Linked DNA regions of Homo sapiens: all the other regions are linked to region 1. Evidence: fine-mapped expression QTL. A gene starts in region 1. Each other region holds a variant in brackets. All regions are shown on one strand. Distances are from middle to middle.

The links.
Region 2: its variant is fine-mapped to the expression of THBD in whole blood (INTERVAL, PIP above 0.99).
Region 3: its variant is fine-mapped to the expression of THBD in whole blood (TOPMed, PIP above 0.99).

What each region holds. Positions count from the first base shown.
Region 1 is chr20:23,048,234-23,050,982 of GRCh38, reverse strand. It overlaps THBD (thrombomodulin), which reads left to right and starts at 1,311. Exons shown (of 1, transcript NM_000361.3): 1 at 1,311-2,749. The coding sequence starts at 1,479.
Region 2 is chr20:23,121,748-23,124,505 of GRCh38, reverse strand. No RefSeq gene overlaps it. Among named protein-coding and RNA genes, the nearest start is that of LINC00656, 9.5 kb to the left of the region's middle. The variant A/G (reference allele first, on the strand shown) is at 1,276.
Region 3 is chr20:23,020,189-23,022,946 of GRCh38, reverse strand. All of the region lies in intron 1 of LOC101929707 (a long non-coding RNA gene), which reads left to right. Among named protein-coding and RNA genes, the nearest start is that of SSTR4, 14 kb to the left of the region's middle. The variant G/T (reference allele first, on the strand shown) is at 1,138.

The sequences.
Region 1 (2,749 bases):
GAAACTTCTCCAACTTCCTTGGCTTTGTTTAGAGCTCGACAGCGCCGCCCCCTGGCGCTCGTTGTGAGGACAGTAGAGGAGAGAGGCAAGGGTGTTTTTAAACAGTTTGCCTCTCACCATTATGGGGGCGACCCGAGGGGGAGACCCACTCTTCCGCATTCCCGGTAAGTGAACCACCGGAAGAGGTCGAAAGTGACGGATTCCCATGTCCTCCTCCAGCCCCCCCCCCACCCTGCCCATCCACAGGACGGTGGCTCTTCAGTGCCCTTTGCCGAGCAAGTGGCGTTTCTATGCACGTGGGTATCAATTCGGACTCTGGACGAAATGGAAACCTCCTTAGCCGACCCGGGTGGGATCAGCTGGGATCCTGCGCGCTCCCCTGGGGGGTTGCCAGCCACTCTGTTGGGGTGCAAGAAGCACCATCCTTCGGAAGCTGGGCCGAAACTGGCCAGGCTGACTCGCTCCCACGCGCCCGCCCCTACCCGGCGCCGCAGCAATTCACCTGCCACCGCCTCTGAGCCGGGTCCGGACTTCGGCGCCCTGACAGTGTCCCCGCGACTTCCCCACCCGATGAGATGGGGTCTGGCGTTGGCCAGTGCGTGTCCAGGGACTCGCGGGTCCCTGGCCAGCCATGGGGCAGAGGGCGCTGGTGTTAGGCCAGTCTTCCCCACCCTGCCCCGTCACCCCAGCCACACCCACTGTCCTGTGAGGCCAAGCGCGCTCCGCTGGTTTCCTGAGCCAGGCACCTTGGCCGCGGACAGGATCCAGCTGTCTCTCCTTGCGATCCTGTCTTCGGGGAAGTCCACGTCCTAGGCAGGTCCTCCCAAAGTGCCCTTGGTGCCGATCACCCCTCCCAGCGTCTTGCAGGTCCTGTGCACCACCTCCCCCACTCCCCATTCAAAGCCCTCTTCTCTGAAGTCTCCGGTTCCCAGAGCTCTTGCAATCCAGGCTTTCCTTGGAAGTGGCTGTAACATGTATGAAAAGAAAGAAAGGAGGACCAAGAGATGAAAGAGGGCTGCACGCGTGGGGGCCCGAGTGGTGGGCGGGGACAGTCGTCTTGTTACAGGGGTGCTGGCCTTCCCTGGCGCCTGCCCCTGTCGGCCCCGCCCGAGAACCTCCCTGCGCCAGGGCAGGGTTTACTCATCCCGGCGAGGTGATCCCATGCGCGAGGGCGGGCGCAAGGGCGGCCAGAGAACCCAGCAATCCGAGTATGCGGCATCAGCCCTTCCCACCAGGCACTTCCTTCCTTTTCCCGAACGTCCAGGGAGGGAGGGCCGGGCACTTATAAACTCGAGCCCTGGCCGATCCGCATGTCAGAGGCTGCCTCGCAGGGGCTGCGCGCAGCGGCAAGAAGTGTCTGGGCTGGGACGGACAGGAGAGGCTGTCGCCATCGGCGTCCTGTGCCCCTCTGCTCCGGCACGGCCCTGTCGCAGTGCCCGCGCTTTCCCCGGCGCCTGCACGCGGCGCGCCTGGGTAACATGCTTGGGGTCCTGGTCCTTGGCGCGCTGGCCCTGGCCGGCCTGGGGTTCCCCGCACCCGCAGAGCCGCAGCCGGGTGGCAGCCAGTGCGTCGAGCACGACTGCTTCGCGCTCTACCCGGGCCCCGCGACCTTCCTCAATGCCAGTCAGATCTGCGACGGACTGCGGGGCCACCTAATGACAGTGCGCTCCTCGGTGGCTGCCGATGTCATTTCCTTGCTACTGAACGGCGACGGCGGCGTTGGCCGCCGGCGCCTCTGGATCGGCCTGCAGCTGCCACCCGGCTGCGGCGACCCCAAGCGCCTCGGGCCCCTGCGCGGCTTCCAGTGGGTTACGGGAGACAACAACACCAGCTATAGCAGGTGGGCACGGCTCGACCTCAATGGGGCTCCCCTCTGCGGCCCGTTGTGCGTCGCTGTCTCCGCTGCTGAGGCCACTGTGCCCAGCGAGCCGATCTGGGAGGAGCAGCAGTGCGAAGTGAAGGCCGATGGCTTCCTCTGCGAGTTCCACTTCCCAGCCACCTGCAGGCCACTGGCTGTGGAGCCCGGCGCCGCGGCTGCCGCCGTCTCGATCACCTACGGCACCCCGTTCGCGGCCCGCGGAGCGGACTTCCAGGCGCTGCCGGTGGGCAGCTCCGCCGCGGTGGCTCCCCTCGGCTTACAGCTAATGTGCACCGCGCCGCCCGGAGCGGTCCAGGGGCACTGGGCCAGGGAGGCGCCGGGCGCTTGGGACTGCAGCGTGGAGAACGGCGGCTGCGAGCACGCGTGCAATGCGATCCCTGGGGCTCCCCGCTGCCAGTGCCCAGCCGGCGCCGCCCTGCAGGCAGACGGGCGCTCCTGCACCGCATCCGCGACGCAGTCCTGCAACGACCTCTGCGAGCACTTCTGCGTTCCCAACCCCGACCAGCCGGGCTCCTACTCGTGCATGTGCGAGACCGGCTACCGGCTGGCGGCCGACCAACACCGGTGCGAGGACGTGGATGACTGCATACTGGAGCCCAGTCCGTGTCCGCAGCGCTGTGTCAACACACAGGGTGGCTTCGAGTGCCACTGCTACCCTAACTACGACCTGGTGGACGGCGAGTGTGTGGAGCCCGTGGACCCGTGCTTCAGAGCCAACTGCGAGTACCAGTGCCAGCCCCTGAACCAAACTAGCTACCTCTGCGTCTGCGCCGAGGGCTTCGCGCCCATTCCCCACGAGCCGCACAGGTGCCAGATGTTTTGCAACCAGACTGCCTGTCCAGCCGACTGCGACCCCAACACCCAGGCTAG
Region 2 (2,758 bases), 74 kb before region 1:
CACTCCTGGGCCCAGGCTACCATTGACCAGCTTTTTGCCACTAGAGGTTAATTTTCATTCTATGTGATTGGAATCATACAGATGTTCTTGTATCTGACTTATTTCACTCCACATAGTGATTCTGAGATTCAAATGTTGTGTGTATCAGTTGTTTGTTCCTTTTTATTCCTGAATGGGAGAGGGGATGTCAAGCTGCACAGTTTTATTCCTGGGCTACAGTGGAGATGGATGGTTCTACCGTCTCTCTGAAACACCATCTGCAGTTTCTTCAAAATCTACCTACACATCTTCCATCCCATCCTGAGGAGTCCCCGAGGGTTGAGAAATGCATGACCCCACACCTGGCTGACGTGTACAACTGGCGGAGTTAGTTTTTCCTGTTGACACTGGCCACGGGCGCCTCAGCATGCACAGCCCTGGCCTTGCTCCTCTAGGCATGCTGGGGGCTTGTCCACACGTGTGGTCTACGGATGGAGGAGAGTGGCCTCTGGCCCATGCGTGCCATGCACTGGACCTTCCCAGGGAATCAAGTTACATGATGTTTCCTTGAGGAGCTACATACAAAGTAAAAAACTGAAATCAAGAATATCAGTCATTTCTGAATATGCCAATTCGCCCATGGTGCAGTTTGTACAGCTTAATCACTGCAGAACAGTTTTGAGGATAAAATTAACCAAAAACCTAAGTAGACAAAATATTCAAATTTTTGGAATCTGTCACAAAAATCCACAGATGACTTATTTTCCATTGTAGCTTATAATGTCCAAAAGCCTTTCTAGTGACTTATAACTGATGGTGAGCTCCCACTCTGTGGCAGCTGTGGGACACTGGTCTAAGGACTACACCCTGATGCCTGGTGAGTTACAGAGGCCATGAGAAGATGTCAGTGAACCTGAAAGCCAGGGAGAGGCTGTGTTCCTGCCGGACTGTGGGGCTCCTTCGCTCCCCTGCTGTGGCCCTTGGTCAGGCCACTTTCCCTCTCTGGGTGTCAGTGGCTTCATCTACGAAGTGATAAAAAACTAATGCAAACCAGAGCAAAATGAGATAACACGGGGACCCCTAATGTCCCAGGGAGATGGTGAACTGAAGCACCGCGTGCGGTGAGTTGTTGCTGTCTCCACCCCTCAAGGAGACCGCAGCTTTGCAGACGTGTGGGTCCCATCATCGGCCCCATTCTACATTCCTCCCTGTGTCCCTGCCATCGCCAGGTGACTTTGCTGGGCCCTCCCACCGCCCTAACTCCCAATCCCAAGATCTTCAGTGAACGTGACGCGC[A/G]CAGCAGAGGCCCAGAATGTATGTGTGCATGTGGTGACAGCTAAGCCTGCCTGGAGCAGAGCCCCAACCCTGCAGCAGCTCAAACAAGCTGAGATCAGCAAATGCACATCTGACTCTCAGACATGGGGGCAATAATAATAAATGCTGTTTGAGTTTTGGGGTCTTTGGCTACACAGCAATTGCTCACCAATATGACAGGGTTGTATGACGTGGCCATGCGGAACTGTATTATAGGGGAAGTGGTGAACAGTGTGATGAGATTTTAAAGAGGAACAGATTTACCACTGACTTTAGAAATCATGGAGGAGAAATCTCTGGGGTTGCCCTTGAAGGGTGTGTGGAGGAGGACATGGGAGAAGGGGGAAGAACCGTGGCATCCTGGCTAAACAGACACAGGGCAGAGGGAGCCTCTGTGTTGGGACTAAGATGGGGATGTCGGGGAAGGGACATGGCAAGCTGACTGTTGGTGGGGAAGGCACGTGTGGGGCTATATTGTGATCATTGTGATGTATATACATTGTCACCTCCTACTGTCTCTGAGTCCGGCTGTCCCAAGCCCCCGCCGTGGAATCCAGCAGTGTTCGGGCCAACTCTCAGAACCTTGGCTTTGTCTGGGGGACCCCTCCCAGACCACTTCACCTGCAAGCCCTCCCACACGGTGACATGACAGCCCCGCTGTCACTGCACATGATGGAGGCCCATAGGGTGGCCGACCACACTCCTGCCAGGTTGTGGGGACCTCTGCCCAGGCGCTGACCCTTTGCCCAACTGGGCAGTGCTCCAAAGCACTCAGAGTAGGAGTGCAATCATTTTTCATTCTTAGATTCAGTAGGCACACTATTTTGTCCAATTTCCATCCTTGCTTCATCATGTTAACGAATTGTGTGGACCTGTGGTGGCTCCAGGCACTGCTTGGCTTAGCATAGGCTTAGGGCACAGACTCAGGTCAGACAGGGCTGGGTTTACATCTCACTCTCAAATGGTAAGATCTTTTTTTCTGGTAGGGGAAGAAGAATTAGTAAAAATCTCTGAAACTCAAATCACTCTTGCTCCAAAACCACAGGAACACGTAGATGCTCTAGTTGACATATGAACACCCCGTAAATGTCATCATCAGGGTTGCTAATCAGCTGTACGTAGAGAGGCAGTGCTGGTGTCATCAAAAGCACAGCAAAAATAACAACAACCTGGAAGCGAGGAATGGATTCAGATCCTTCTCTCAGAAGGGGCTTTGTCCTGCCGTCGTGACCTCTGCTCAGTTCCCCAGGACAGGTGGGGGCCTGCAAGCCCAGCAGGTCCTCCAGGCTACCACCCTCCCCCTCTGCAGCCCCCACCACCCCCACCATCCTGTGCCTGGCCCTGGCTCACCAGCCCAAGCTGACCACCAGGCAGGTCTCAGCAGCAGTGCTCTCCGCTGGAAGTCGGCTCCTGCTTCTCGGGAGGCCTGAGCTCAGAGATGCAGGATACAGAAGGCTTCAAACTC
Region 3 (2,758 bases), 28 kb after region 1:
ATACATAACACTTCTCTTTGTTATAAAACCTCCAACCATCTCTTTGTTCTTTAGACACACCGAAAACCACCCAATATGTGGTCTTGCAATTCTTTCTTCCCAAATAAAATGTTAAATTTAGAGGTTCATCTTTACCTTTTAATTCTTTGACACAACCGAATAGGACAAAGCAATGCATTTAACTTGTTCAACTGTTGATGAAATCATTGCAAAGGCAGCTCTAATTTTTTTTCAGACCTCAGTCTACTGACAGCATGAACAGAAAGAGAGGGTCTCTTTCTGCTGGTGCTTCGGTTTGAGAACCAGTGCTCCTGACTTTGGTTGGCCATTGGTGTCTGTCTGAAGAGGGTCTCCACTGCCCCCAGGCATGTTCCTTCTCTCACTGCTGCCCCCTGGGATGGAAACTCGACATCCCCTCTTTCCCTTCCTACTGGCACCAACGGTACCAGAGCAAACCCCACAATCTCCATGCCTACATTTCTTTGACATCCACCTGTCACCATCTTTGGAGGATTCAAGTGAAGTTCTTTGTCTTTTATGGGACAGAGATGATTCTCCACTCCAGAGGGTCTGGAGTGATTATAGGAATGTAATCGCCTTGAACAATCAGCGTGTTTTACAGCCTACTGCCCTGCATTTTGTGTGGAATGCAGTTGTCTTATTGCTTGGAACCAGCTCTCAGTAGACCTCAGCAGCTTATAGACAAACCCGAGTGAACTTTCCTCATGACCATGCTAGTGTCTCCATCCTGGGATGAGCCACAGCTTCATCACCATAACATGCAACCTATGTGCTGGTGTGATGACTCGCTGTGTCTGCACCACTGAGGCTCCTCCTCCACATGCCATGACGCGTCCTCTCTTCTCTCCATCTCCCCATGAAGTCCTCCTGTCACTTTCCCTCAGGGAGACATGGCTTTGGAGAGTACTCCCAACAGCATGCTTATTTGTGCCAAGTAATAAAACTCCTGTTGATCAAACCTACAGTCTCAAGGAGATTGATTTCTTACTTGCCAAGCAAAAGAACCTGGGTTTTTTTTTTGGGGGGGGGTGGTAAAAATAGTGTCTAATCCACATGTGCAATTAGCATTCCAGTAGACTTACACCATCAAAAAGATACTCTTTCTTCTGTCCTGCA[G/T]GGTGCCTTCTCCTCTGTCCTGCCATGGGTGAGGCTGCCTGGACTTAGGGGAGGCACTACCTTCCCTTTTCTTTGCTTTGCCTGCCTCACTGAGCAACTCTGAGGTATTACGGAGATGCCTATCTTTCCTGGTAATTTTAGCATTGTTACAATGTGCAGATCTGGACAATACTTTGGAGATGCCAAATACACAAGATAATGGCTGTTATTTTAAAGCTCTTCCTCCTCTGCAAATACAAGTTACTAAGATAATACAGAGGGCTTCACTATAACAGGTGTGGCTTTGGATGTATAAACAGTGCAATATACCAGAGTCTCTTGATTAGCTTGAAGTGCTGTGGGCTGAAATCAGGACCTTAGATCTCTGCCAGGGGTGGTAAATGTGCTCACTTTTCCTTCCAAACAATGGGTGGTGAGCCTGAAGGAAATGCCTCCAGAAAAGCTTACTGCTGTGCTACAACACCTTGTCTGTGTTTTAAAGGGCCACAATGGAGGCCCTCCCAGTCCACATTTGACTTCTCCCATGTATACTTTTCTTTTGAGATATGTTTATGACTTATTTGCGAGTTATTAGAAATAACACAACTGTTAGAAATAACACAGTTTCTTAAAAATATCTGTTTGTGTTAAGTTTCCAGAACTCTGTGACCGTGTTCAAGAGAAGACTGTCAGTAACGATAGCTACAAACCACACTCTATTTTCCGAGATCTTTTTGTTACGACAGACTTGCTGTCTAAAACCCTGCTTGGCCCATAGTGTTACTGGAAGGAGGTCCTGATCCAGATCCTAAGAGAGGGTTCTTGGATCTCACTCAAGAAAGAATTCAAGGCAAATCAATAGCGTAAAGTAAAAGCAAGTTTATTAGGAGAGTAAAGGAATAAAGAATGCCTACTCCATAAGCAGAACAGCCCTGAGGGCTTCTGGTTGGCTGTTTTTATGGTTATTTCTCAATTATATGCTAAACAAGGGGTGGATTATTCATGGGTTTCCTGGGAAAAGGTTGGGCAATCCCAGAACTGAGGATTCCTCCCCTTTTTAGACCATATGGGGTAACTTTCAGACATTGCATGGCATCTGTAAACTCTCATGGCGCTGGTGGGAGTGTCTTTTAGCATGCCAACGCATTATAATTAGCATGTAATGAGCAGTGAGGACAATCAAAGGTCATTTTCGTCACCATCTTGGTTTTGGTGGGATTTGGCTGGCTTCTTTACTGCATGCTGTTTTATCAGCAAAGCCTTTGTGACCTGTTTCACGTGTCAACCTCCTATCTCACCCCATGACCCCTTAACCTTCTGAGAATGCAGCCCAGTAGGTCTCAGCCTTATTTTACCCAGCCCCTATTCAAGATGGAGTCGCTCTGGTTCGAATACCTCTGACAACAGCCCATCTGTTCAATACGTAACTATTTAATTAAGTAAATTCCTGCATGTCTAATTAGCTCCTGTGAGTAGTTCATAGGCCTCGTTCCCTTTCGCAGAGCTGGGGTTCTAGGATTCCACGGAGTAGCAGAGACCTCTGCAGCCTTCTGGGGAAATGTGCTGTGTTTCCGCAGGTACTTCCCTCAGCCCCATACAGCATCAGGACATTCTCCAGGTGCTCCTGGGTAGGAGGGTGCCA